7 separate regions of the Homo sapiens genome follow, and regions 1, 3, 4, 5, 6 and 7 are each linked to region 2. Evidence: fine-mapped QTL for protein levels in blood plasma. A gene starts in region 2. Each other region holds a variant in brackets. All regions are shown on one strand. Distances are from middle to middle.

Region 1 (4,064 bases), 990 kb after region 2:
CAGAGAAGGTCCCAGTGGCCAGGCTGGGGGAGCATGGTGGGTCCTGAGGATCTAAGACAGGGTCCATGGAATTAGCAGGCAGACAGTCAAAGACAGAGCAGAGCATGATGAGGCTGGAGTCTGGCAGTTGCCAAACCATGCAGGGCCAAGCAGGCCACACTGGGGAGCCTTGTCTTAACCTGAGAGCACTGGGATGCCACTGAAGGGCTTCAGGCAGAGGTCACCCAGCCTGAACCTGGCTCTGTCCCTTCTCAGAAGTGTGGCACATCCCCCATGCTTCCCTGGCTGGTGGGGCTGCTGCTGCTGAAGGAGCCTCGGGGCAGCTCCCTCACCTGTCCCTCCAGTAGTGGTAGCCATGGTGCCCCACAACGTCCTCCACTGCAGCCAGAATGTGGTCAAAAGTCTAGAAGGGGGGTGGGTAGGGGGACTGGATCAGGACTCTGCCCAAAATAGGAGAAGGTCGAGAGGGACAGGCGAGGGCTGGGGTTCTGATACCCACGTGTTCATGCAGCTCCTGGTTCAGGGTGGGTTTGTGATGCTCACTCCTCTTCACCTTCAGCCATTTGACCAGTGGCTTGATGGTCAAGCCCTATGGACAGGCAGGAGGTGAGCCCTGCCCTATTCCTATTCAGTTCCCTGCTGCCTTTCTCTCCCCGTAATGAGGCTTCAGCTTCAGTACCCCTACCCCACTGCACTCAAGGTCTGGGAAGTCAGGGCCCTCCATCTCCCAGCGGGAAGAGAAGCCCCTGTCCCACAGGCTCCAAGACTCCCCCAGGGCCTGCCCAACCCTCTCCCTACCCAGCCTTGTGGGCACTCCCACCTGCACGATGACTGTGAAGAAGACCACTACAATAGTGGTGGCTACAAAGTAGTCCTTGGCAGGGACCTTGGTCCTATCCAGTAGGATGACGAGAGCAAAGGCCACAGCCCCCCGCAGGCCCCCATAGGACATCACCACTTGGTCAATCTTGTCCAGAGGGACTAGCCGGAACTGATTCAGCACCCAGGTCTGCAGGACTACGCCTACAGCGGGAGGGAGGCCAGTGGGAGCAAAGCGTTGGGAGTGGAGGACGTGGGACCGGATGGGACCAAGTATCTGGGCTGAGGTCTAACAGGGGCTGGGACAGGTGAGCAACAAGAGGAGGCTTAGGAATTGACAAAGATGTGGACTCAGATAGGGAGATGAGCTGCAGGGAGGGGCGGGACAGGAAGGAGAGTGGGAAAGCAGAGGGTGCCAGCAATACCGAGGGCTCGGAAGAACAGGATGAAGATGAGGGTGCCCAGCACCAGCCCAGAATCCCAGGCCCACTTAGAAGAGTCCACGGCTGAGATGCCAAGCAGCATGAAGATCACGGTCTCAGCACAGCTGGCTAGAGTCTTCATTGTATATTTGACAGTTGTGCGTGACTTATGGGAGATGTTGGCCTCCACGTACTTCTTACAGCCCAGGCCACACATGGTCACCCTGGGAGAGGATGGAGAGACATGGCAAGTGGGGAAGGGTTCCAGGGGGCTCAGCCTCCAGGGTTTGAGCATACTGCAGGAGGGGGCATTGCCCATTACAGGATGTCAGACTCTCAGAGCTGAAGCCCAGGGAGGCCTGAAGACTTGAATGGTAGTGCTGGGCTAAGAGTCCAGATCTCCAGGCTTCCCATTCAGTGTCTCCTGGAAGGGAAGGTGGAAGGAACGTGCTCTGACTAGCGGGCTCTCTAATGCACCTTCTGGAGTGCTGCGGCCTCCAGAGCTGGTGGCCCCAGGCCTTAAAGTCTACTTCCAGCCCAGCCTACACCCAGAGGGTTTCAGGGTGCTGAGGACAGCTCTGGGGGCAGCTCCTGAAATATTGCTGAGGTTTACTGACTCCCCAGGACAGTCTGAGGCTCCCACTACCACAAGGGCTCAGGGAAACCTATGGACTCCTGAAGTTCCTGCCTGTGTCCCTATGAGGGGCAACCATCTCCAGTGCCCCCTCCCAGCTATCTGCCTGCAAGGCCCCCA[G/A]AACTCACGCAAGAATGGCGGAGAGCGAGGCCATTTCAGCAGTGAGGTAGGCTGCGTAGGCGAGGAGGAAGACCAGCAGCGGCTCGATGATGCGGACCCGCTTGGTGAAGCGTGTGGTCAGGGCCAGGAGGAAGGCAAAGACTAAGCCCACGGCTGCCCCGCCCAGACTGACCACAAACAGGGAGGCTGGGGGAGGAGTGGGTTGTCAGCATGACCCCTGGCCCGGACCCTACCCGGGCTGACAAGACTGCTGCCTGGCAGGGAGTGAGGGATGATGCCCACCGCACTCCCAGGGGCTCAAAACCCCAGAGCCAGGATCCCTGGCAAGCCCCTCCCAGACCCCATTTCTCTATAGAGGAGATGAGGCAACCCGAATAGCCTCTTCTGTCCTGATGCGGGGTGGGAGGGCCTCAGCAACCCAGGGGAGGCAGACCTCCAATGCCAGCTGGGAGCGGGGAAATACTGACCGACTCCCTTCAGGTAGTCAGTGGCCTGCACATTGGCAGAGCCCATCTCCACAAAGGAGTTGCAGACCTTGTACAGCACCTGAGCGAGAAGAGGAGAGTCAGCAGTGAGGCGGGAAGGCAGCAACTGGGACTGCTGGGAGACAGACTGCTGGGAGAGCAGGGTGAAAGCAGACAGCATATTTCTGCCCCAGGGGACCCAAGGGAAGGGACTGAGTCTGCGCAGACCCCTAGTTGGTCAGAGCATGCAGCCTGGGGTCAGGGAATGGCAGTCAGCTGAGCACGCTCACCACGGTGACAGCATCGTTGAGCAGGGACTCGCCAAAGACGATGATAAAGAGAGTCTCATTGACGTGCACCTCCTCAAAGACAGCTAGCACGGCCACGGGGTCCACCGCCGAGATGAGGCTCCCAAACAGCAGGAAGTCCAGTAAGCCAGCCTGCACCCTAGGGGCTATTAAGGGACATGTGTAGGACAGGCCAGTCATTGAAGACGACCCAGTCTCCTGGAGCACGCCCTGGAACAAGCCCAGGCCCCACCCCTGCTGATAACAGCAAGGAAGCCCAAAGAGGACTTGGGATGGCAAAGACAGCATTAGCCTGCAGATCAGGAGACTTCAGTCAAGCTACCTATGCCTAAGGTCTGGCTTTGCCACTTACCAACTGTGTGATGCTGGTCCGTCACTGTCATGTGGCTCACCTTAGCCATGCCTCCTCATCTGCCTGCCTCACAAGATTGTTTCAAAACTCAACCCAGCCATTTGGAATAGGGAAAAAGCCCAGGTACAGTGACTCATGCCTGTAATCCCAGCACTTTGGGAGGCCGAGGTGGGCTGGATCACCTGAGGTCAGGAGTTCAAGACCAGCCTGGCCAACATGGTGAAACCCTGTCTCTACTAAAAATACAAAAAGTAGCCAGGCGCAGTGGTGCAGGCCTGTAATCCCAGCTACTTGGGAGGCTGAGGCAGGAGAATCACTTGAACCAGGGAGGCGGAGGCCGCAGTGAGCCGAGATTGTGCCACTGCACTCCAGCCTGGGTGACACAGTGAGACTCAGTCTCAAAAAATAATAATAAATAAAATAAAATAGGGAAAAAGCACTGTAGCAACAGTAATAATAACTACCAGCAAATGGAAATTGGCTGCTAACTATTTTTATTAGGGGGAATAACAAAAGAGAGTGCTTTCTCCCACACCTGTGGTTCCCGGCCAAAGGGATGTGACACAATTCTCAGCAGGTGTGGAGAACTGAATATAGTAAGAAAAGCAACACAGATCGGACTTGAATATGTCATATAATTTCTATGAGCCCCAGTTTCCCCATGTCTAAATTGAGACTAATAACAATATCTACCTCAAAAAGTTCCTTAGCCAATGCCTAACATATAGTAAGCACCCAAAAGATATTATTATCTATTACTGTTATTATGATCTGATGTCCTCCCTTCCCTTCCTGCCCCAAATAGTTCACTACCTCAATAGGGAAACCAGGTTAGAGTCCCAGGTAGCAATTGTAAACGTTTTCTTGTAATACCTTGGAAAAAGTGTGAATCATTAACCTTCAGGGTTGAATGAATTTCTTGGGTTAGGAAATAAAGAAGGTAGC
Region 2 (4,064 bases):
ATGCCTGTGGACTGGGCAGGGCAGGGCAGAGACCCTGGTCACTGTCTCTACCAAAGGGGAAATGGTAAAAGAGGAAGTCACCAGATCTGCTTTGCTCAGATGCTCCTTACCCTGGTCAGGCTGTGTGGCCCCTAAAAATAGCAGTGGCCACTTCCTGAGCCCATCTGCGCCTGGAACTAGGAAAAGAGCCATCCACATGCCTTTCACCTCAAGTAACACTGGGAGGGGACAGCCTTACTATTTCCACTTAACAGATGGGGAGACTGAGGCTGCAAGAGGTGGAAATGGCCTTGCCTATGGTCCCTTCCCCTTGCCCAGGGTCTTCTGTATCACATCGCTGGTCTCTCTTTCCTCCACCACCATTTCAGGATCCACCCCTAGAGGATTCTGATCTTCTGACAGTCAAGGTCAGATCCCTGCTCTGTGCCCAGGAGCTGCTTATCCAACTGCCCACCGTGAGGTCTCCCAGGGCTAAGGCCAGCAGCCTCACTCCCTGAGAAGCTGGGCATGTTAGGACTCCTGCTGCTCTGTGATTCTGGGTGGGGTCTGAGGCTCTTCTGCTGTGACCAAGGATAAACAGACTGACTGAATTGATGAGTGCGGTTAGCATCAATCCAGGCAAAATGGCTATGTGCCATTTTGTGTGCCACAGACCACATGCTTCCTAATGCCACGCCCCTCAGACTTAGAACTCTGCAGGCCAACCCAGGACTCCCTGAGGCCCTCAAGATAAAGTTCAGATGACCCAACCAGTCACAAGTCCTGTGCAGTCCACTCCTCCTGTGACTCGATCCCAGGCAGCCTGAGATGCTCACGTCTCTCCCCGACCCATTACTCTCTCCTGGCCTTAGCTCCAGCTATATACTCCAGGAAGCCTTACTTGACACCCACCCATCCAGGCTGGGTTGGTGGATTCTCTGTGCTTGCCCCACACAGACTTCCTCTCTGGGGATCACTGTTATTCCTATCCTGCAAGCTTTGGGGAGGCAGGGCCAAGTCTGCCCAAATCCCATGGTGAACCTGGGCCTAGTATCCCCCTGGAGCTTTTCCTGGCTGGGAACTCCTGGTGGGGCCTGCCTGGCACCACCCTACCTGCCAACTCTACCCTTCTGTGATTTGCATCGTCCCCATTTAAAGTACTCTCAGCAGAAAGAGCATGGAGATCATGCTGCACTAGACTCCACGTGTAATTCATGCCTCAGATGCCTCTGCTTTCAGGAATCCTGGCTGGCCACGGACACACCAGCTCTGGATGGGAGTGACGGCCTCAATGAGGCACCCAAGGCCCCCCAGACAGAGGTCTCATCCCTGCCCATCCCTGCAAGGAAATACAGTGGCCGTTGTAGAGTTGCCAGGGTTGTGATCAAGGAGCGGGGTGAGCAGGGGAGGTCACCGAGCCTCCACATAGTCTAGTCCAAGCATGTGTGGCAGGGTAAGAGTACAAGCATGTTGCCTGACACAGGTTCATGGCCATTGTCCCAACCCTTTCCCCTGACTTCAGTTGTCTTCAGTTTCCCTTAGGCCTTTTCCCTCAGGCAATGCCACACATCTGATAAGTTGTGGGAGTTGGTGGCCAGCTAGGACAGCAATCCTTTCCCTAAGGAGGTTCCTTTCAGCAATGCCTTCTGGCATATGTGGCATTGGAGGGGTCGAGGGTGACAGCCTCCTAACCAGGCCCAGGTCGATGCAGAAGTCAACTCAGGAGCCACTCTACACACCCCCACCATCCCTCAGGAGTGGGGCTGAAGCACCTGTCTTTCCAGCTTAAAAATGGGATAAGGGGAGGCAAGGCTTGGGAATGATGCGGACAGGTGGAACTATGAATAACCAGATGGTAACTCTCCCACTCACCCCCATTTTCTACCAGGACAGGAGGTGGGGAGCTGACCACACCCGCGCCCAGCATGGCGGGAGGTGAGCCGGCAGATCTAGATCACCTAAGTGACAAGACAGATACCAATACGCTCCCCCATTTCGTGACTGGAACAGAAGCAGACCGGGAAGGCAGCCCCGCCCGCGGCCCGTCCCGCCCGACCGACAGATCCACCACGAGACCCGTGCCTCACCCAGCACCACTGGGGGGTGACGTCCGGCCGGGAGCGCTGGGTCCGCGAGCAGCATTAGCAGCAGCAAGAGGAACAGGAGGCCATCCGGGAGCAGCCCCACACGGTAGGGGCGGAGGTGGAGGCCCATGGTGTACGACGGTCGCCGCAGGTCCGGGATGCAGGTTCAGCTCTCTGGGCTCTCGCCTAGGCGGGGGCGGTGGCGACGCGCTTAACCCCGCCGCCCGCATCCCCCGCATCCCCCCGGCCAATCAGGGCCCGCCTCCCGCAAATGGCTGGCCAATAGGGACTCGCCGCCATATACGCCCCTCCCAGTCGGAGGTCGCCGCCCCGCCCTTGCCCAACCCCCTGCTTCCTGGACCACGCTGAGCGCCGAGCGCATCGATGGATCGAGGTATCGCCTGGCTCCGGGCTGTCAGTCGCCCACCCGGGAACCCAGCTCGCCGCTGCTGTACCCCGCCCAGCCCTGGGTACCCGAAATCCACGCTGCGCAGCTCTCACTTGGCGACCCCCTGACCTGGAGGATCTGGAACGGACAAGACCGGGAGAGGATAAGGGGTGCAGCGCTGGCCGCTGCTGAGCGACCCCGGTTAAAGCAAGAAGAGAGGAAGTGAGTCCCGGACAGTTCTTGGGCCTCAGGTGACCAGGAGCTGACCAGGACCTTTGTGCAGCCCCCACACCAATTCTTAGCACACCCTGCCCCGAGGGCACCTGGGTGCGGCCAGTCAGCCCCTGTAACTCTGCCCCGGGGTTACAGATGCGGGGGGAACCGGGAGAGGCCAGGTCAGCATGTTCAGTTCCCAAGAGAGGGGTTAATCTGTTCGTTTTAGGGGCGCAGAGTGCAGCGTCACCCCGCCAGTCCGGGCAGTTCGGGCGCGGGGTTGGGAGTGGGCTTGAGTCTCGACCCTGCGCCATGGGCCATCTGCAAGTTCCCCTGCAGAGCAGGAGAGGCATCGGGAGCTCGTGGTCCCCCTCCACTCTCGCAAACCTGGGGAACCAGAGAGGACATGGACTCCCTGCGCCAGGAAGCAGGGGCGAACAGAGTGGGCAAAGACCTGACAGCTGGTTATATGCCAGCACCATAGGTCACTGTGGGATAGAGGGACGAGAGTATTTGGGAAATAGAGGTCTTGATCCTCCACACACCCACCCCTTCGAAGGGGCAGCTGCACCCTGGTCATCCCACCTGGTCCCAAGAAATTTGTCCTGCCCCTTCCTTCCTTCTTCTTGGTAAGCAGCTGACCTGGCTATGAAGCCACTATCTTGCCCTGCCCTTCTCGAGTTCTTATAGTGAAACATGTTGGTGACTGGGCTACCACCACCCTCCCTCTTTCTTTTTTCTTTTTCTTTTTCTTTTTTTTTTTTTTTTTGAGACAGAGTTTCGCTCTTGTTGCCCAGGCTGGAGTGCAATGGTGCAATCTTGGCTCACCGTAACCTCCGTCTCCCGGATTCAAGCAATTCTCCTGCCTCAGCCTCCCGAGTAGCTGGGATTGCAGGCATGCGCCACCACCCTGGCTAATTTTGTATTTTTAGTAGAGACGGGGTTTCTCCATGTTAGTCAGGCTGGTCTTGAACTCCCAACCTCAGGTGATCCACCTGCCTCGGCCTCCCAAAGTGCTGGGATTACAGGCGTGAGCTACTGTGCCCGGCCCCTTTTTCTTTTCTTTCCTTTTTTTTTTTTTTTTTTTTTTTTTTTTGAGAAAGGGTCTCTCTGTCACCCAAGTGCAGTAGCACAATCACGGCTCACTGCATCCTTGACCTCTCAGGCTCAAGCAATCCTTCCCACCTCAGCCTCCTGAGTAGCTGGGACTACAAGTGTACACCTCCAAGCTCAGCTAGTTTTTTATTTTTTGTAGAGTTGGGGTCTCACTATGTTGCCCAGGCCAGTCTTGAACTCCTGGCCTTAAGTGATCCACCTGCCTCAGCCTCCCAAAGTGCTGAGATTACAGATGTGTGCCACTGTGACCAGCCCCACCCTCTCTTAAGGTCCAGCCATCTCCC
Region 3 (4,064 bases), 910 kb after region 2:
TTTGAGACCAGCCTGACCAACCTGGAGAAACCCTGTCTCTACTAAAAATACAAAATTAGCTGGGCGTAGTGGCACATGCCCGTAATCCCAGCTACTCGGGAGGCTGAGGCAGGAGAATCGCTTGAACCCGGGAGGTGGAGGCTGCCGTGAGCCAAGATCGTGCCACTGCATTCCAGCCTGGGCAACAACAGCGAAAGTCTGTCTCAAAAAAAAAAAAAAAGATCAGTGGTTGTCTGTTGCGGGAAGTCAGGGACCCCAAACAGAGGGACCAGCTGAAGCCATGGCAGAAGAACATAAATTGTGAAGGTTTCATGGACACTTATCACTTCCCCAATCAATACTCTTGTGATTTCCTATGCCTGTCTTTACTTTAATCTCTTAATTCCGTCATCTTCGTAAACTGAGGAGGATGTATGTTGCCTCAGGACCCTGTGATGATTGCATTAACTGCACAAATTGTTTGTAGAGCATGTGTGTTTGAACAATATGAAATCTGGGCACCTTGAAAAAAGAACAGGATAACAGCAATGTTCAGGGAACAAGAGAGATAACCTTTAAACTCTGATTGCCGGTGAGCCAGGTGGAACAGAGCCATATTTCTCTTCTTTCAAAAGCAAACAGGAGAAATATCGCTGAATTCTTTTTCTCAGCAAGGAACATCCCTGAGAAAGAGAATGCATCCCTGAAGGGAGGCCTCTAAAATGGCTGCTTTGGGGGCAGATGTCTTTTATGGTCACAGCTGTAGGATGAAATAAGCCCCGGTCTCCCGTAGTGCTCCCAGGCTTATTAGGACGAGGAAATTCCCACCTAATAAATTTTGGTCAGACCAGTTGTCTGCTCTCAAATCCTGTTTCCTGATAAGATGTTATCAATGACAATGCGTGCCTGAAACTTCATTAGCAATTTTAATTTCACCCCGGTCCTGTGGTCCTGTGATCTCGCCCTGCCTCCATTTACCTTGTGATATCTTATTACCTTGTGAAGCATGTGATCTATGTGACCCACCCCCTATTCGTACACTCCCTCCCCTTTTGAAAATCACTAATAAAAACTTGCTGGTTTTATGGCTCAGGGGGCATCACGGAACCTGCTGACATGTGATGTCTCCCCCAGACACCCAGCTTTAAAATTTCTCTCTTTTGTACTCTGTCCCTTTATTTCTCAGGCCGGCCGACACTTAGGGAAAATAGAAAAGAGCCTACGTGAAATATCGGGGGTGAATTTCACCTGATAGTTGTCAGGGGTTTGGGGTGAGGGAGGGATAAACAGATGGTGGGGCACAGGGGATTTTTAGGTTAGTAAAACTGTTATTATAATGGTGGACACGACTGGCCAGGCACGCTGGCTCATGCCTGTAATCCCAGCACTTTGGGAGGTTGGGGCAGGCAGATCACCTGAGGTTGGGAGTTCGAGACCAGCCTGGCCAACATGGTGAAACCCCGTCTCTACTAAAAATACAAAAATCAGCCAGGCATGGTGGCACACGCCTGCAGTCCCAGCTACTTGGGAGGCTGAGGCATGAGAATCACTTGAACCCAGGAGGCGGAGGTTGCTGTGAGCC[G/A]AGATCGTGCCACTGCATTCCAGCCTGGGCAACAGAACAAGACTCTGCCTCAAAAAATAAAAAATAATGGTGGACGGCCAGGCGCGGTGGCTCACGCCTGTAATCCCAGCACTTTGGGAAGCCGAGGCGGGCGGATCACGAGGTCAGGAGATCGAGACCATGGTGAAACCCGGTCTCTACTAAAAATATGAAAAATTAGCCGGGCACAGTGGCAGGCACCTGTAGTCCCAGCTACTCGGGAGGCTGAGGCAGGAGAATGGTGTGAATCTGGGAGACAGAGCTTGCGGTGAGCCGAGATCCACGCCACTGCACTCCAGCCTGGGCAACAGAGTGAGACTCCATCTCAAAAAAATAAATAAATAAAAATAATAATAATAATGGTGGACACGACATAATTGTCAAAAACCATAGAACTGTACAACACAAAAAATGAGCTCTAATGTAAACTATGGACTTTAGTTAATAATCGCATCAATATTGGTTCATAAATTGTAATATATCACAATAATGCAAGATATTAAAATTAAGGGAAACGGGGTGGGTGGGGAGAGGTGCAAGGAAGGTAAGCGTATATGAGAACTCTCTGTACTTTATGCCCAATTTCTCTGTAAACCTAAAACTGCTCTAAAAAATAAAGTCTATTAATTTTTTTAAAAAAGGAATGAAGTATTAATACATGCTAAAACATGAATGAATAATGAAAATACTATGCTAAGTCAAAGAAGCCAGACAGAAAAGGCTACATATTATATGATTCCAATGATATGAAATACCCAGAAGAGGCAAATCCACAGAGACAGAAAGCAGTTTACTGGTTGCCAGGAGCCAGGGGTAGTGGGAAATGAGGTGTGACTGCCTAATGGGTTGATGAAAATGTTCTGGAACTATATATAGGTAGCAATGATGCTTGCACAACATTGTAAATGTACAAAATGACCCTGAATTGTATATTTTTTAAATGGGGCTACGTGTGGTGGCTCATGCCTGTAATTTCAGCACTTTGGGAGGCGGAGGCAGGTGGATCACTTGAAGTCAGGAGTTCAAGACCAGCCTGGCCAACATGGTGAAACCCTGTCTCTACTAAAAACACAAAAATTAGCAGGGTATGGTGGGACGTGCCTGCAGTCCCACCTACTCAGGATGCTGAGGCAGGAGAATCACTTGAACCTGGGATAGAGGTTGCAGTGAGCTGAGGTCGGGCCACTGCACTGCAGCCTGGGCAATAGGGCAAGATTCTTATCTCAAAATAAATAAATAAATACTAAAACGGTGAACTTTATAGTATGTGAATTATATCTTTTTAAAATGCACCCATCTCTACAAAAAAAGAAAAAATTAGCTGGGCATGGTGGTGCACACCTGTAGTCCCAGCTACTCAGTAGGCAGAGTCAGGAGGATTGCTTGAGCCCAGGAGGTCGGGACTGCAGTGAGCCATGATCATGCCACTGCACTCCAGCTTGGGCAACAGAATAAGACCATGTTTTTTTTAAAAAAAAATAAATAAATAAAATAAATAAATAAATAAAATTTTCCTGACTTTGAGGGCAGTGTATTGGTAATTCTGTGGTATGTTATGATCTAACACCCTGAGAGTCTGTTAACATGGGACAAAAGCTAAGGACAATTATGGTTTCCATCAATGACCCACAGCATTTCTCATGCCTTTCACTGCAGTCTATTTTGAAGAGCAGACATTTTAACATTTTAAGAAGGAATGTGAATTATTAAAATGATAAACTGCCACAAAGACAAACATTCTTTAATGATTCACATGAATGCATGTCTTAAGAGGTTATGCATTTCGTTTCAGTGTTTATTTATTTATTTATTATTTTTTTTTGAGACGGAGTCTCGCTCTGTCACCCAGGCTGGAGTGCAATGGCACCATCTTGGCACACTGCAAGCTCTGCCTCCCAGGTTCACGCCATTCTCCTGTCTCAGCCTCCCAAGTAGCTAGGACTACAGGCGCCCACCACCATGCCCAGCTAATTTTTTTGTATTTTTAGTAGAGACAGGGTTTCATCATGTTAGCCAGGGTTGTCTCGATCTCCTGACCTCGTGATTCGCCCTCCTCAGCCTCCCAAAGTGCTGGGATTACAGGCGTAAGCCACCGCGCCTGGCCGTTTCAGTGTTTATAAAGAGTGAAGACAAATCAGAGAACAAATCAAACACTGCACAGCATAGATGCCAAGAATAAAAGAATGATCTTCCAATTTTAATATATGGGTTACATAACCCCAGTGGGCAAAAATTTGCTATTTGAAAATAACAAATCAAGTAGTCTCTCTAATGAAAACCATTTACAGCTCATTTGGAAATTGAATTAACAACCTTTAACAAAGCTTATTTATAATGACAATGAATGTTTCTAATAAATAAAACTTTTTCTTTTTCTTTTTTTTTTTGAGATGGAGTTTCGCTCTCTTTGCCCAGGCTGGAGTGCAATGGTGTGATCTTGGCTTACTGCAACCTCCGCCTTCAGGGTTCAAGCGATTCTCCTGCC
Region 4 (4,064 bases), 10 kb before region 2:
TCTTCCAGCCAACTCAGAGTCACTGGGCCTGACCCAATCACAATGCCAGTAGACCAAGCAGGTCAAGCAGTGGCAGGCACTTGAGCTCATGAGATGCTTGGCACAGCCCTGGCTCATAGCTCCCAAAGTGAGGGTCCATAAGCCTCCCCCAAGTCCTAGCAGAGGGAGGAAAGCTCCCTTCTAGAGGAAGAAGCTCTACTCTACAGCTGCAGCTGGTGAGCTGCAACAGTCATGAAAAGACGGGGGAGGAGCCATAAAAGGGGTGGCTTTCCCAATTGCCAGGCAAGCAGGCCCAGCCAGATCTGCACCTGCTTCCTCCCTGTGTTGCCTACAGAGGCTCCGTGCTGCCCACAGATGGAGGCGCAACTCATAAATAAAAAACTGTAGTCTAGAGGCCAGGTGCAGTGGCTCATCCTTGTAATCCCAGAACTTTGGGAGGTCAAGGTGGGCAGATCATTTGAGGTCAGGAGTTCAAGACCAGCCTGACCAAAATGGTGAAACCCCATCTCTACTAAAAATACAAAAAAATCTGGCCGGGTGCGGTGGTTCATGCTTGTAATCCCAGCACTTTGGGAGGCTGAGGCAGGCAGATCCTCCTGACTTGAGGTCAGGAGTTAGAGACTAGCCCGGCCAACATAGTGAAACCCAGTCTCTACTAAAAATACAAAAATTAGCCGGGTGTGGTGGTACGCGCCTGTAGTCCCAGTTACCCGGGAGGCTGAGGCAGGAGAATCACTTGAACCTGGAAGGTGGAGGTTGCATGAACCAAAATCACGCTACTGCACTCCAACCTGGATGGCAGAGTGAGAAAGACCCTGCCTCCAAAAAAAAAAAAAAAATGCTCTAGCCTTCCTCCTCTGCGGTGAAGGTGGGGATGAAGAAGTAAGGATGGGGTAAGAGGGAGGGATGGCCAGGCACAGTGGCTCACACTTGTAATCCCAGCACTTTGGGAGGCCGAAGCGAGTGGAACATCTGAGGTCAGGAGTTCAAGACCAGCCTGGCCAACATGATGAAACCTCATCTCTACTAAAACACAAAACTTAGCCAGGCATGGTGGCGGGCACCTGTAATCCCAGCTACTCAGGAGGCTGAGGCAGAATCGCTTGAACCCGGGAGGCAGAGGTTGCAGTGAGACAAGATTGCACCACTGCATTCCAGTCTGGGTGACAGAACCAGACTCTGTCTCAAAAAATAAAAATTAAAAAAAAAACAGGGCTGACCCAAGAGAATAGTCATTGTGGAGACCAAAGCAACTCCATTTTGGATACTAATCCACCATGTTGGCTTCTGATTAACCCCAGATCCAGGAAGGCCACTGAGATTTCCACTTTATCTACTGTTTCTTGTGCACGTACTTAACCATAAATCAAAACAGCCTCTGTGTTATCATCCTTCAATGTTCAACACATCGCATCGGAGTCGCCCTTTCCCTACAGAATATAAGCTCTGGGTCTGGGGGCTAATAGTGTGGGGATCCACCATCTTGTCTTGCCCCCACCTGAGACACAGATGTGGCTTCTATTCGTATGTCCCTATTAAATGCTTTTCTCTGAGAAACTAGATTTGTCAGCCTCTTTCTTCTTTGGACTTTTAGGGGTAGATTTGCATAGACCCCACACACCGTGGGACAGACACGAGGCATGCTGGCCCAGGAGGACACTTAGGAAGGGAAGAGAGGGCAGAATTCCTGGCAACAGCCCCCCACGCTGGGCCAGGTAGGGTCTTACCTGAAGCCAGGACGCGCAGGGTCTTGGCCACGCCCCCCCAGGGCGCACCCAGTGACA[C/T]GAAGGCCCGGATATACTTGTCCTTCCAGGCCTGCGGCTGCCGCTGCAGAAAGTAGAGCGTGTACATGTTGCCCATACTGTGGGCAACCAGCACCACGGGGCCCCCATACAGCTGGTACATCTCCTCGATCATCTCGCGGAGGGCCAGGAAGTAGGGCCCGTTTTCATCTGCAGGCCAGAGCCAGGCAGGGGTCAGGTGGGAAGGGTCCTGGAGCCGGAACCACTGAGCTTTTCTCAGGCCAGACACAAGACGAGAGGGGGAGGGGAGGGTGCTCACATTCAAACAGAGCGGTCTGGGTCCCCCCGCCTTCCATGAAGGGAGGAAGCCTTATATTTCTCCCCAGGGCTCACAGGCCCAGAGGTCCCAGGGTGGGAAATGGAGGACAGGATAAGACTGACCAAAGGTGGTGGCTGTGACCACTAGACTGGATGCCAGAGGCCCAGGGACAGGAGACAGCCAAGGACAAGGGGAGAGCCCAAGGTCTGTGGTGCCCATGATCACCTCACCCCTACCTCCCGAGACGTCAGGGAGGGAATGAGAGTGCCTGCTTACTTGGGGCTCGGCGCCAGTCATAGGGAGCCCCTCGGACATCCTCACCCCGTGTGTAGCCCCAGCCCACAAGGCTCTCCACCATGGTGTGGAAATAGGAACCTGTAGACAGAAATACAGAGGATAAGAAAAGATACAGCTAGTGCCGGCCACCTACACTATGCCCAGCATGGAGACTGTGACAGCTAGCAGGTCCTTGGAAGAATGCTACAGGGCTCTGTGCCCACGCTGATCAGAGACAGCTCACAGGCTGTCCCTACAAACCAGCAGAGTTCCTCCAGCTCCAGCTCCAGTCCGGCAGAAACCCCATCCCAGCTCCCGGAGGCCTTGAGTAAGGGCTACATACCCACGCTGCTTTTGCTGGGGTCCAGGAACTCCAGTGAGAAGGTCTTCCCAAAGCCAGGGACACGTACATCCACACCATCAGGAAACTGGGTGGCCCTGGATGTTTTGTTGTAAACCAGCCTGTTGTGAGAGGATATTGAGCCAGTGACCCGGAGGGGACACTGAGCTTGGTGTGTCCCAACAGTGCATCATGTCCTGAGTCATACTCCCTTCTCATGCCCAGGTTTGGTCAGATGGATAGGAGAGACCGAAAAGTAACAAAGCAGGTTGATAAAGCACAGATCACCTGTAATCCCAGCACTTAGGGAGGCTGAGGTGGGAGGATCACTTGAGGTCAGGAGTTTGAAACCAGCCTGGCCAATATGGTGAAACCCTGTCTCTACTAAAAATACAAAAATTGCCCAGGTGCAGTGGCTCACGCCTGTTAATCCCAGCACTTTGGGAGGCTGAGGCTGGCAGGTCACCTGAGTGAGGAGTTTGAGACCAGCCTGACAAACATGGCGAAACCCCATCTCTACTAAAGATACAAAATCAGCCGGGTGTCGTGGGAGGCGACTGTAATCCCAGCTACTCAGGAGGCTGAGGCAGGAGAATCGCTTGAACCTGTGACACGGAGGTTGTAGTGAGCTGAGATCACACCACTGCACTCCAGCCTGGGCGACAGAGCAAGACTCTGTCTCAAAAAAATAAATAAATAAATAAATAAATAAATAAATAAATAAATAAAAATAAAAAGCACAGATCAGAGTAATTACATCCAAATGAGGACCCCACCAAGGCATACTTACTCCAAATACTGACCCCAGGACCCCTGTCAAAGCAACATTCCCCTCTCCCCCGTGACCCTACTCTAGAATGAGGGTCTTGGACCTGGTTGGGAGAAGGAAGTACCAGTCCTGATTCTGCCGTGAACTTCACACTGGACCCCAAGAGGCAGTCTACCCTCTTTCAGCTTTCCATCGCTCCATCTCCTTGCATCCAGCTCCTGCCAGCCCAACGTATCCCAGGTGAAGGAGGTGGTGAGTGCAGTACACAACAGAACCAGACAGGGGCCGGGTGCAGTGGCTGACACCTGTAGTTCCAACAATTTGCAAGGCCAAGGTGGGAGGAATGCTTGAGGCCAGGAGTTCAAGGCCAGCCTGGGCAATACAGTGAGGCCTTGTTGCTACTAAAAATAAAAAATTAGCCAGGCATGGTGGTGCAGGCCTGTGGTCCCAGCTACTTGGAAGGCTGAGGCAGGAGGATGACTTGCACCTGGGATATTGAGGCTGCAGTGAGCCGTGATCATGCCACTGCACACCAGCCTGGGCAGCAAAGTAAGACCCTGTCTCAAAAAAAAAAAAAAAACAAAACAAAACACACTAGGCCAGGCACAGGGGCTCACG
Region 5 (4,064 bases), 15 kb before region 2:
CAGGAGGCAGAGGTTGCAGTAAGCCGAGATCGCGCCATTGCACTCCAGCCTGGGCAATAAGAGCGAAAGTCTATCTCAAAAAAAAAAAAAAAAAAACACCATATGCCAGCTCCGTCTGGCTTTGCAGTCTCATACCCAGTTACGTAGCCCATCAGCTGAAAGCCCAATGTACACCACACCCTGAATCAGATGTTCTCCAACACCATCAGTGTTCCTCAGGACCACCCTGCAGGATACATTTATTTGTAACCATTCTTTTCTTTTGCTTTTAGAGATCTTGCTGTTGCCCAGGCTGGAGTGCAATGGCTATTCACAGGTGTGATCATAGCTCACTGCAGCCTCGAACTCCTGGTTTCAAGCGATCTTCCTGCCTCAGCTTCCTACTTGGGACTACAGATTTATTTCATCTTTTTTTTTTTTTTTGAGATGTATCTCGCTCTGTCTTGCTCAGGCTGGAGTGCAGTGGTGCCATCTTGGCTCACTGCAGCCTCCGCCTCCCAGGTTCCAGTGATTCTCCTGTCTCGGCCTCCAGAGTAGCTAGGACCACAAGGCATGTGCCACCACACCTGACTAATTTTGTATTTTTAGTAGATATGGGGTTTCACCATGTTGGCCAGGCTGGTCTTGAACTCCTGACCTCATGTGATCCACCCTCCTTGGCCTCCCAAAGTGCTGGGCTCACAGGCGTGAACCATGGCGCCCGGCCTATTTCACCTTTAGAGATAAAGTCTTGCCCAGGCTGGTCTCAAACTCCTGGGCTCAAGCGATCCTCCCACCTTAGCCTCCTGAGTAGGTGGAACTATAAGCGTGAGCCAATGCACCCAGATGTCCCCATTCTTTGGATGAGGAAACTGAGGGTCAGGAGGCTCCCCAGACAACTTGGCTGGAGCTAGTAGAGCTGAGATTTGAACCCTAGTATGCTGATCCTTAAGCCTCCTCTGATTCCATGCCCTTTCTCTCTGCAGCTATGAAACTGAGGGTGATGGTGAAGCTAAAATGGGTCAGGGATGAGTGGGGTGCCATGAGTAGGGGGGTGTCAGGGCCAAGCAGGGAGTCAGGTTGGGCAGGGCCTGGGGTGAAGCTCCCTTTCATGTTGTCATCCTTTTACTGAGGCCAGAGCTGCAGCTGGACCCCAGTATTTTTACCACAGGCATTTTTACCCCCACTCTGGGTCACCTCGTCCTTCCAGGTTTGGCTAACAGGTGGTTCAGTGAGAGGGTTCAGGGCGCCCTCTTGTGGCCCCTGGTGTATCAAAGTCTGGCGCCCCAGCTTGTGGGGCTGAGTTAAGACAGAACTGGGTACCGGCTGGGCTCTGGACTACAAAATTCAGGCTGGGACCCTATCCCCTATCCATGTTTCCTTGGCTCTGTCTCTGTTTCTGTCTTTGTCCATACCAGTCTCAGCCTAGTAGTCTCTTTTCCTCCCTTGATCTCTCTCATCTGTACCTCCCCAGGGGTACAGATGGCAGGCTGATGAGCTGAAGATGCAAAGAAGGGTGGCATCCTAAAAAGAACTCTAGGTTCAAAGGATGCTGACACTTGCAAGCTGAGGGAGGACAGAGGCTGGGAAGGAGGGTGTAGCCAGGGTGACCTGCAGGACTGTCCTTGCTCCCAGCTCCTGGGTGGCATGTGGGGCCTGCTGACCAGGCAGGAGCAGGGGGAGGACAGGACCCCATTTCCACAGGAATGTTTCAGGTTCTGGTTCTTAGTCCCAGGAAGGGAACTGGATTCCAGGAGAGAGGACAGGAGGATGAGGTCCACAGAAGGGCACAGGAACCATGCTTTGATGCTGAGACAACCTGTCAAGGCTCCTGTAAAGGCCCAGCCCCTAATTTCCTGCCTCTGTAGCCACCTTGTACCTCCACCACCTCCCTCCCCTCATGCTCAGAGCAGAATGTAGGCCAGGGCACCTTACAGCATCCAGAGTACTTTTATTGCCAGAATCCAGATACAGCCTGCTCAGAGCCCCATGTGGGGCCACTCAGGAACAAGGGGAGACAGATGCCAGGCATGTATGCAACAGAGAAAATCCAGCTGCACAGAAACCCTGTGGGAGAGCAGCTCAGTCCAGC[G/C]TGAAGGCGTCTTTGGGAACCCCACCTAGAGGCTGTACCCTTTTCTCGGCCTGTGGCCAGTCACCCACTTAGAGCCTACTGCCATGAAGGCAGCCCTGACTCTCCATGCCTGCTGCCACAGGGAGATCCATGGAGCACCCTGGGGCAGACAGAAAGCCCCTAGGGGGGCCTCAGGGGACCCCTGGCTCTCTCAGGGTCCCATTCAAGTTTCTGGGCTAGTCCCAGCACTAAGCTGGGTGCTGGCCAGGGTGGATAGGAGCCCCATCCTCAGCCCTGTGCTGACCCACTTGGTACTAGTGAGACCCTAGGGCAGGGTGGCAGTGTGATGGTGGGGTTAGCAAGAGGTGCAGCTCAGGGAAGCTGCGAGCAGCCTTGGCTGCTTCCTTGGATTCCCTTTCTCCATAGGTTCCCAGAAGGCCATGGCTCCAACCCCTGCTCTCATCCTTGGAACCACAGTCCCAGGGTGAAGGGAGGCAGCTTCAGTCCTGGGGCCAATAGCACATCCGAGGAAATCAGGGCCCCTGGAACACAGCCTGCGGGACTGGGGGCACATCTGCTGCCCAATCCAGAGCTTGAATGCTCCTGGTGGTAAGGGAGGTAGGAGTGGAGTGAGATGTCCCAGGGCCTGGGAACCACGAAGAACGCAACAAACTGCCCCTGCCTGCAGGAGCTACTAGGCTCGCCCAGGAAGCCAGTCAGGCTGGCCACCAGCTAAGCCACAGGGAAGCCAGCAGCTCTAGCTACCCATGACCAGTGGCAGGCCTATCTGTGGCTGGTGTGTGGGAAGGGTCACCCGAGGGGCCAGGAGCCGATCCCTGGGACCTCTGGGTACAGGACCACAGCCCAGTAACATCCCTCATAGGAAGGCTGCGGGGCCAGGGCCCAGTAGGCAAGTATGAAAAGCCCACAGGAATAGGGGGGACACATGGCCCCAGGCAGGGACTGGGACCAGGGCCCAGCCAGTCCACCCTGTGGAGCCAGTCCTAAGGTCACAGCAGTTCCACCATCAGCAGCATTCTTGCCATCCAGTGTCCCTTGAGTCTAGACTCTCATTTCTTCCTTCTTCACTGCCACAGAGAAAGGATAACAAACAGCACTTCCCCATGGCAGATGCTTCACAGTCCAAGACTCGGGGCCTTGAATGGTGAGTCACAAACTTTGCAAAACGCGTGGGCCATGACAGCCCCAGAGGCCAACAGCAGGTCCACGGCCGAGCCACAGGAGTCCTGTGGCACAGGAGTCAGGGCCCAAGGAGCACACGTTTCAGATAGGCCAGGGTGGTGGCGTTGGCCAGCATCTCGATGTGCTCGCTGCCTGGCAGCTCCTGCAGCAACACTTGGTGCTCCTGGCGGCTCTGCCAGGCCTGGCACTGCAGGGCACTCTTCAAGTTCACAGTACCATCGCCGTCACCAAAGCAGATTTTAGGGTCACGGTCAGGGAAGCTCTCATAGTAGAAGGAGTCTGGTGTGGGGACGCCAGTACCATAGAGGCAGTGCAGCTGCACGCCAGGTGGCATCGTGGCTTCCACCAGCCCTTCTGTGTCCTGCCGCATGAGCCAGCCATCTTCAAAGCCGATGTCCTGGAAGAACTTGCGGTAGTCCCGCAGTGTGTAGTTGATTGTGGGTGTCTGCACGAACACCTTCTCAGGTGACCATGTGTAGTTGTAGGGCAGCAGCCAGCTGGTGGAGACAGCTGACCGCTGCTGCTCCCGGATCTTCAGGGGCCCGATGACTGGGATCCGGTTGTTGTCTCCTGCAGGGAGAAGGCTCTGGTCAGTCTGTGCTTAGGAATGCCAGCTGGTTGGGCAGCATGTTCACCACCAGGCCCCTGCCAGACCCCAGCCAGGGGCCCAGTCCACAGTCCCGCATCTCTACCCGGTTATCATCATTGTAATCACTGTGACTCCCATCCCTGCCTTGGCTCTTTTTTTTTCTTTTTGAGACAGGGTCTCACTCTGTTGCCCAGGCTGGAGTATAATGGCATGATCACGGCT
Region 6 (4,064 bases), 540 kb after region 2:
AGTATGGGTCTTGACACTGGCCTTTTGGAATGTGCCTGAGGGGACAGAGGTGTGCATCAAGTCTGTGGAGGTGCCTCTCAGGATGCAGTGCTCTGGAAGGTGTGGGGCTGGATCTGGGGCTAGTCTCATGGTGAGTGGCCCTTGAGGCACAGTGGAGGCTGACACTAAGTGAGGGCTTGCCACTCTTTCAGTGCCAAGTCTTATTGCCCAACCTGTATAGCTACAACTGCAAACTGATACATACCAATGCTCTATGAATAGCCATCATTAAATTTGCTTGCCAGAAATGATACGGGAGAACCCCTTTTGAACCCTCCCTTCCTCAGTATGAGTTGTTCATGAGTGGTGAGGACTTCCTAACATCTGGAGCTCAGCCACTCACCCAGTGTGACACACTGCCCAGGGAAAAGTGCCATCTTCAGATACGCTCAGCAAGTGCTGGGATTCACCAGCCTACTGGGCCTTAGCTTGAAGTTTCTTTCTCAGAAAACTTATTCTCTTGGCCCCAGCCTGTACCGATGATGTCCCCAAAAGTAAGCTTACAGGTTTTTTTGTTTTGTTTTAAAGGAAAGAGACTTCTAATTCACACATATCCATTTAGTTTGATTACAGAACTGAATTTGCAAGGTGTGAACAGGTTGTTCTATGTCCTTGGGCACAACTACTTAAGGTGATTAAAAATTAAGGTATAATTTACATACAATTAAAAACACAGATCTTAAATATTCAATTTGATGAGTTTTGACAGTTGTACCACCATGTAACCCAAGCACCAAACAAGATACAGAACATTTCCATCACTCTAGAATGTAGCCTTGTGCCTCTTTCTGTTCGATTCCCTCCGCCTCAGCCACCACCGCCACTGCCGCCTTCTGACTAGTGTTGCTATAAATAAGGCTGGCTTATTCCTGAATTTCAAAAAAGTGGAATTCTACAGTATGGGTCTTCTGTGTGTGGGCCTGCCATCTTTCACTCTACATAATGTTTTTAAGATTCATACAGGCTAGGCGAGGTGGTTCATTGTAATCCCAGCACTTTAGAAGACTGAGGCAGGGGGATCACTTGAGGCCAGCAGGTTGAGACCAGCCTGGGCAACACAGTGAGACTCACATCTCTACAAAAAAATTAATAAAATTTTTAAAAAGAAAAAAATTCATTAATAGTTAATTCCTTTTTACTGTTTTACTGTATTCCATTGTGTGACATCATAATTTATGATGTGAACATTTGTTTCTAGTGTGGGGCCATTATGAATAAGGCTGCTGTGAACATTTGTATAATTTTTTTTGTGGACTTATGTTTTTATTTTCTTAGATAAATATCTATAAGTGGAGTTGCTGTGATTGGGTTGATATATGTTTAACTATAAGAAACTGTCAATTTTCCAAAGTGGTTGTACTGTTTTACATTCCCACCAAGAATGTATGGGAGTTCCATTTGCCGCATATCCTCTCCAAACTTCAGGATTGTAAGTCTTTTTTTTTTTTTTTTGAAATGGAGTTTCACTCTGTGGCCCAGGCTGGAGTGCAATGGCGCGATCTTCACTCCCTGCAACCTC[C/T]GCCTCCTGGGTTCAAGCAATTCTCCTGCCTTAGCCTCCTGAGTAGCTGGGATTACAGGCATGCACCACCACACCAGGCTATTTTTGTATTTTCAGTAGACATGGGGTTTCACCATGTTGGCCAGGATGGTCTTGAACTCCTGACCTCAGGTGATCCACCCATCTTGGCTTCCCACAGTGCTGGGATTACAGGCGTGAGCCACTGCGCCCGGACATTTTTTTTTTTTTTTTTGAGATGGAGTCTCGCTCTGTTGCCCAGGCTGGAGTGCAGTGGTGCGATCTCGGCTCACTGCAAGCTCCACCTCCTGGGTTTACACCATTCTCCTTCCTCAGCCTCCCGAGTAGCTGGGACTACAGGTGCCCACCACCATACCTGGCTAATTTTTTTGCATTTTTGGTAGAGATGGGGTTTCACCATGTGTTAGCCAAGATGGTCTCAATCTCCTGACCTCATCATCTGCTGATTTGTTGGAGTTCTGCAGACAAGTCCTTTGTTACATATATATTCAGCTCATATTTTTTCCCAACCTGTGGCTTGCATTTTCATTTTTTTAATGATGTATTTTAATGAGCAGAAATTATTTTAAATTTTGAAATCCAGTTTTCAATGAGTTAGTGCTTTTTGTGTCCTGTCCAAGAAATCCTTACCCCATGATTTCAAAAAGTACTCTCTGATGTATTTTTCTAGAAGCTTTATGGTTCTGGCTTCTACATTTAGGTCTTTGATCTGTCTTGAATTAATTTTTGCATATAACAGTGAGAGAGAGGGGTTAAGGTTGTTTGCCATATGGATATCCAATTGTTCCAACATCATTTCTTAAGAAGAATTTTTTTCCCCATTGAATTGATTTAATGCTTTGGCTGAAAATCAGTTTACCGCATTTGTGTGACTTGCAGGGTAAAGATAGTATTACAAGGCTGTAACTTTGTCTATAGAAATCTCTAATGGCTCTTTTTAAAAGCCCAGCACTGAGAAATAAAAAGCATATTTTGTAATTTAAAAAAGTATGGTCAGGCCAGGCGCAGTGGCTCACACCTGTAATCCCAGCACTTTGGGAGGCCGAGGCAGGCAGATCTCACAAGGTTAGGAGTTCAAGACCAGCCTGGCCGATGTGGTGAAACCCCATCTCTACAAAAAATATGAAAATTAGCTGGGCGTGGTGGCACGCGTCTGTAATCCCAGCTACTCAGGAGGCAGAAGAATTGCTTGAACCCCGGAGGCGGAGGTTGCAGTGAGCTGAGATTGCACTACTGCACTCCAGCCTGGGTGACAGAGCAAGACTCCGTCTCCAAAAAAAAAAAAAAAAAAAAAATCACAGGGAAAACCATAACAGGCACTTTTTTTTTTTTAAAGATAGAGTTTCACTCTGTTGCCCAGCCTGGAGTGCAGTGGCGTGATCTCGGCTCACTGCAACCTCCGCCTCCCAGGTTCAAGTGATTCTCGTGCCTCAGCCTCCTGAGTAGCTGGGACTACAGGCATCTGCCACCGTGCCCAGCTAATTTTTTGTATTTTTAGTAGAGACGGAGTATCACGATGTTGGCCAGGCTGGTCTCGCACTCCTGACCTCAAGTGATCCGCCCGCCTTGGCCTCCCAAAGTGCTGGGATTACAGGTGTGAGCCACCACACCCAGCCTATTACAGGTACATTTTTTAAAAGCTTGGATGGAACCACCCAGGCTCCATTCATCTATAAATTTCTGAAGAGCTAGCTCACTGCTGCTAATAGGATCGGGGAGACACAATCCCAGAACAAGTAATGACACTTGAAAAAACCTGTAGGTAGGCTGGGCACAGTGGCTCACGCCTGTGTTCTCAGCACTTTGCGGGGCTGAGATGGGTGGATAACTTGAGGCCAGGAGTTCAAGACCAGCGTGGCCAACTTGGCAAAACCCTGTCTCTACTGAAAATACAAAAATTAGCTGGGCATGGTGGCACATGCCTGTAATCTCAGCTACTTGGGAGGCTGAGGCAGGGGAATTGCTTGAACCTGGGAGGCGAAGGTTGCAGTGAGCTGAGATCATGCCACTGCACTCCAGCCTGTGCAACAAAGTGGGATTGTGTCTAAAAAAAGAAAAGAAAAAACTGGCAGGTGATCAAAAGTATTCTTGAAGATATACTGAGAGGTATTTAGGATGAATAATGGATACCATGGCAGGGAAAACAACTATTCAACTCCTATATTTCTCTTTCATCAGAGACCCAGCTGGAAGGACCATGTGCAGGGAAGGTAGCATACCCAGTGCCCAGTGGGTTTGTTTCCTCTGATCAATTTGAATTACATCCCACGGGTCTCAGAAAAGTAGCAGCTGACCATGATATACTCCATAAACTACTGTCAATAAGCCTTGAGGCATTGTGGAGCAGAGGCAGGTGCCAGATGATAAGCGATACACAATGTCTGTGATGTTTGAGCCTGATGCTGGTGATTCCTCAGAACTATGCAAGAACATCTCATCAAACAAATGATCCCTGAGCACCTAGAAAGAGAACTGGAGAACACTGCAA
Region 7 (4,053 bases), 430 kb after region 2:
TGTCACCCAGGCTGGAGTGCAGTGACCCAATAACACCTCACAGTAACTACAAACTCCCGGGCTCAAGAGATCCTCCCACCTCAGTCTCCTGAGTAGCTAGGACTACATGGGCACACCACCATTCCTGGTTAATTTAAAAAATCTTTTTTGTAGAGATGAAATCTCCCTGTGTTGCCAGGCTGGTCTCAAACTCCTGGTCTCAAGCAGTCTTCCTTCTTTGGCCTCCCAAAGTGTTAGGATTACAGGTGTGAGCCAGCCTTGTTTTTCAGAATTTTATTTATTTATTTTTTTGAGACTGAGTCTCGCTCTGTCGCCCAGGCTGGGGTGCAGTGGCACAATCTCTGCTCACTGCAGCCTCCACCTCCTGGGTTCAAGTGATTGTCCTGCCTCAGCCTCCCGAGTAGCCGGAATTACAGGCGCATGCCACCACGCCCAGCTAATTTTTGTATTTTTAGTAGAGATGGGGTTTCACCATGTTGGCCAGGCTGGTCTTGAACTCCTGACCTAGTGATCTGCCCACCTCAGCCTCCCAAAATGCTGGGATTACAGGTGTGAGCCACTGCGCCCGGCCCAGACTATTTTTTATTATTTGTTTTTATTTATTCATTTATTTTGAGACGGAGCCTCACTCTGTTGCCCAGGCTGGAGCGCAGTGGCACTATCTTGGCTCACTGCAACCTCCACCTCCCAAGTTCAAGCAATTCTCCTGCCTCAGCCTCCCGAAGAGACTGCAGGCACGCACCACCACACCCGGCAAATTTTGTATTTTTAGTAGAAACGGAGTTTCACCATGTTGCCCAGGGTGGTCTTGAACCCCTGACCTCAGGTGATCCACCCACTTCGGCCTCCCAAAGTGCTGGGATTACAGGCGTGAGCCACCGCGCCCGGCCGTTTTTCAGACTTGTAAAAGACCAGTCCTTGGCCGGGCGCGGTGGCTTACGCTTGTAATCCCAGCACTTTGGGAGGCCAAGGCGGGCAAATCACGAGGTCAGGAGACGGAGACCATCCTGGCTAACACGGTGAAACCCTCGTCTCTACTAAAAACGCAAAAAATGGCCGGGCGCGGTGGCTCACGCCTGTAATCCCAGCACTTTGGGAGGCCGAGGCGGGTGGATCACGAGGTTAGGAGATCGAGACCACGGTGAAACCCCGTCTCTACTAAAAATACAAAAAAAAAAAAAAAATAGCCGGGCGCGGTGGCGGGCGCCTGTAGTCCCAGCTACTCAGGAGACTGTGGCAGGAGAATGGCGTGAACCCGGGAGGCGGAACTTGCAGTGAGCCGAGATCGCGCCACTGCACTCCAGCCTGGGCGACAAAGCAAGACTCTGTTTCAAAAAAACAAAAAACAAAAAAAAAACCGCAAAAAATTAGCCAGGTGTGGTGACACGTGCCTGTAGTCCCAGCTACTAGGGAGGCTGAGGCAGGAGAATCGCTTGAACCTGGGAGGTGGAGGTTGCAGTGAGCCAAGACTGTGCCACTGCGCTCCAGCCTGGGCGAGGAGCGAGGCTCCGTCTCAAAAAATAAATTAATTAATATTAAAAAAAAAAAAAAAGACCAGTCCTCGTGTTCTGTCTACTGTTTCTACCGGGAGAAAATGTGGCTACCCTCCTTTGCTTGCAGAGGCGAGTGGAAGCTGGAGAACCAGCTGCCAGGGCCGGGTCTCGGCTAGGTTATTAACAGCTGAGGGATCTCCGCCCGGGTG[G/A]CTGGAACGCAGTGCTCCCGGGCGCTCCGTGCTCTCTGCTTCCCCCTGTAGGTAAAAACGGGAAGGCGGCCCCGGAGGGACGGCGGGAGGGAACACTGCCCCCTGGTGGTTGATGCCGCGCAAAAGAAAGAATGAAAAAGCCTGGCCCACAGAAGGTGGCAGCTGAGAAGGGTGCCCGGGAGCCTCAGAGCTCTCCCCTAGTCATCAGGTTTTTGGGCTGCGCTTGGTCTCTGCGAATAATCCATACTGACCCCTCCTTTCTCCTCCCTGGAGTCACTCCCGCAGGGGTGTTGGGAGTCCCCAGCCCCACAAAGTGTGTGGCCCATGTGTTTCCAAATTCCCCACGAGGGTCAGGGTCACAGAAGGAAAACCACCATACAGCCCATGCTGTTCCACTGTGAGCCAGAGTTGTAAGTTTACTCAAATGTGTTTTTTCCTTTATGAGATTTGGACAATGGCTATTTGCTGATTAATAACAATCCTATGATCATATCAACAAGAGCCCAAAAGTACTTAATAAGACAGCATTGGGGCCAGGTACAGTGGCTCACGCCTGTAATCCCAGCACTTTGGGAGGCCGAGGCGGGCGGATCACGAGGGCAGGAGATCGAGACCATCCTGGCCAACACGGTAAAACCCCATCTCTACTAAAAATACAAAAAAAATTAGCCAGGTGTGTTGGCGGGCGTCTGTCCCAGCTACTGGGGCGGCTGAGGCAGGAGAATGGGGTGAACCTGGGAGGTGGAGCTTGCAGTGAGCCGAGATTGCGTCACTGCACTCCAGCCTGGGCGACAGCGAGATTCCGTCTCAAAAAAAAAAAAAAAAAAAAAATTAGCCGGGCATGGTGGTGTGCACCTGTAATCCCAGCTACTCAGGAGGCTGAGGTAGGATAATCACTTGAACCCAGGAGGCGGAGGTTGCAGTGAGCCGAGATCGCGCCACTGTGCTCCTTCCTGGGTGACAGAGCAAGACCCCATCTCAAAAAAAAAAACAGTATTGAGCTCAGTGTGGTGGCTCACACCTGTAATCCTAGTGCTTTGGGAGGCCAAGGAAGGAGGATAGCTTGAGCCCAGGAGTTCAAGACCAGCTTGGGCAACGTAGTTAGACTCTGCCTCTACAAAAAATGCAAAAAATAGCCAGGTGTGGTGGCGCACTCCTGTAGTCTCAGCTACTCAGGAGGCTGAGTGGGAGGATTGGTTCAGCATGGGAGGTGGAGTCTGCAGTGAGCTGTGTTTGTGCCACTGCACTCCAGCCAGAGTGTCAGAGCAAAACTCTGTCCCCCCCTGCCAAAAAAATTAGCTGGGTATGGTGGCATGTGCCTATAGTTCCAGCTACTTGGGAGGGTGAGGTGGGAGGATCACTTGAGCCCTGGCATTTGAGACTGCAGCGAGCCATAACTGCACCACTGCACCACTGCACCCTGACAGGCAAAAGCCTGTCTCAAAAAAAAAGATGGCATTCTTTTTTTTTTTTTTTTTTTTTTTGAGATGTAGTCTTGCTCTGTTGTCCAGGCTGGAGTGCAGTGGTGTGATCTCGGCTCACTGCAACCTCCACGTCCCAGGTTAAAGCAATTCTCGTGCCTCAGCCTCCTGAGTAGCTGGGACTACAGATGCACCACCATGCATGGCTAATTTTTATATTTTTAGTAGATATGGGGTTTCGCCATGTTGGCCAAGCTGGTCAAACTCCTTACTTCAGGTGATCCGCCTGCCTCGGCCTCCCAGAGTACTGGGATTATAGGCATGAGTCACTGCGCCCGGCTCTTTTTTTTTTTAATTTAAATTTCATTTCTCTTCTGATACCTTTGGTACAGCATTCATTTTTATATACAAACTTTAAAAAAGAGGAATGGCGGAGAGATCCGGAGTGAACATGGTAGAGACGCATCTCTTTCCTCCTGCCTTCACACACCTACTCAGCAATTATGGAGCTATCAACATTTGGCAGACATTCAGGTAGCCTGTTAGATTCTAGGGCCATAAAGATAGAAAGATACAGTCACAGCCATGAAGGACCTTGGCAGATCTGGTGTGACCGTCCCAGCAGGTAGCACAGTGCCTGGTGTGTTGGCGGGAGGGATGAGAGGTAAGGGCCGCTGCAGAATGCTGAGCTGCTGGGGAGGGATGTCTGTGGGCAGAGGCGAGTTCTCTCTCTGCCTAGGGAGATCCGGGAAGGCTTTTCAGATAAGGAGCAGGCAGCCAGTGTACACCCTTCTCCCCAAAGCCTGGTGGGCCTGGCCTCTCTGAGCCACACTCTCTAACTGAGAAGAAGCCACTCTGGTGGGCATGTTTCAGGTGGGCATGTTTCAGGTGGGTGGTACTCTTGGGTTGCAGGAAGGGAGACGGATAGGG

Alleles and levels. Positions count from the first base shown, and alleles are read on the strand shown. Strength reflects both the effect of a copy and how common the allele is. Not every link is listed here.
As copies of A replace G in region 1, the plasma level of the protein whose gene starts at base 2,247 in region 2 goes down (moderate association).
With allele G in place of A in region 3, the plasma level of the protein whose gene starts at base 2,247 in region 2 is higher (moderate association).
For the plasma level of the protein whose gene starts at base 2,247 in region 2, C is the high allele of the variant in region 4 and T is the other (weak association).
In carriers of allele C in region 6, the plasma level of the protein whose gene starts at base 2,247 in region 2 tends to be higher than with T alone (weak association).
For the plasma level of the protein whose gene starts at base 2,247 in region 2, allele A in region 7 goes with a higher level than allele G (moderate association).

The links. PIP is the chance, under the fine-mapping model, that this variant and not a neighbour inherited with it causes the effect. Protein levels are from antibody-based Olink assays in UK Biobank. Linkage for the fine-mapping came from a reference panel and not from the study's own genotypes, which makes the PIPs less certain.
Region 1: its variant is fine-mapped to the plasma level of the PLA2G15 protein (UK Biobank, PIP 0.98).
Region 3: its variant is fine-mapped to the plasma level of the PLA2G15 protein (UK Biobank, PIP above 0.99).
Region 4: its variant is fine-mapped to the plasma level of the PLA2G15 protein (UK Biobank, PIP above 0.99). The variant lies in the coding sequence of PLA2G15. If it changes the protein, the assay may bind it differently, which can mimic a change of level.
Region 5: its variant is fine-mapped to the plasma level of the PLA2G15 protein (UK Biobank, PIP above 0.99).
Region 6: its variant is fine-mapped to the plasma level of the PLA2G15 protein (UK Biobank, PIP above 0.99).
Region 7: its variant is fine-mapped to the plasma level of the PLA2G15 protein (UK Biobank, PIP above 0.99).

What each region holds. Positions count from the first base shown.
Region 1 is chr16:67,253,870-67,257,933 of GRCh38, reverse strand. SLC9A5 (solute carrier family 9 member A5) reads right to left here. Exons shown (of 16, transcript NM_004594.3): 3 at 2,750-2,913; 4 at 2,463-2,541; 5 at 2,004-2,181; 6 at 1,245-1,465; 7 at 821-1,023; 8 at 500-589; 9 at 333-403. Among named protein-coding and RNA genes, the nearest start is that of SLC9A5, 6.9 kb to the right of the region's middle. The variant G/A (reference allele first, on the strand shown) is at 1,996.
Region 2 is chr16:68,243,556-68,247,619 of GRCh38, reverse strand. It overlaps PLA2G15 (phospholipase A2 group XV), which reads right to left and starts at 2,247. Exons shown (of 6, transcript NM_012320.4): 1 at 2,067-2,247. The coding sequence starts at 2,193. RefSeq lists enhancers at 1,281-1,781, 2,903-3,441 and a silencer at 2,198-2,427.
Region 3 is chr16:67,331,891-67,335,954 of GRCh38, reverse strand. All of the region lies in intron 1 of LRRC36 (leucine rich repeat containing 36), which reads right to left. Among named protein-coding and RNA genes, the nearest start is that of LRRC36, 7.1 kb to the right of the region's middle. The variant G/A (reference allele first, on the strand shown) is at 1,562.
Region 4 is chr16:68,253,654-68,257,717 of GRCh38, reverse strand. PLA2G15 (phospholipase A2 group XV) reads right to left here. Exons shown (of 6, transcript NM_012320.4): 3 at 2,681-2,799; 4 at 2,338-2,436; 5 at 1,728-1,952. Among named protein-coding and RNA genes, the nearest start is that of SLC7A6, 8.8 kb to the left of the region's middle. The variant C/T (reference allele first, on the strand shown) is at 1,785.
Region 5 is chr16:68,258,905-68,262,968 of GRCh38, reverse strand. It overlaps PLA2G15 (phospholipase A2 group XV), which reads right to left. Exons shown (of 6, transcript NM_012320.4): 6 at 1,911-3,823. The coding sequence ends at 3,312. LOC124903704 (a long non-coding RNA gene) reads left to right here. Exons shown (of 3, transcript XR_007065096.1): 3 at 273-308. Among named protein-coding and RNA genes, the nearest start is that of SLC7A6, 3.6 kb to the left of the region's middle. The variant G/C (reference allele first, on the strand shown) is at 2,072.
Region 6 is chr16:67,704,785-67,708,848 of GRCh38, reverse strand. The region is part of intron 1 of GFOD2 (Gfo/Idh/MocA-like oxidoreductase domain containing 2); the gene reads left to right. Among named protein-coding and RNA genes, the nearest start is that of GFOD2, 12 kb to the left of the region's middle. The variant C/T (reference allele first, on the strand shown) is at 1,559.
Region 7 is chr16:67,814,447-67,818,499 of GRCh38, reverse strand. All of the region lies in intron 2 of TSNAXIP1 (translin associated factor X interacting protein 1), which reads right to left. Among named protein-coding and RNA genes, the nearest start is that of TSNAXIP1, 9.6 kb to the right of the region's middle. RefSeq lists a silencer at 1,200-1,382. The variant G/A (reference allele first, on the strand shown) is at 1,703.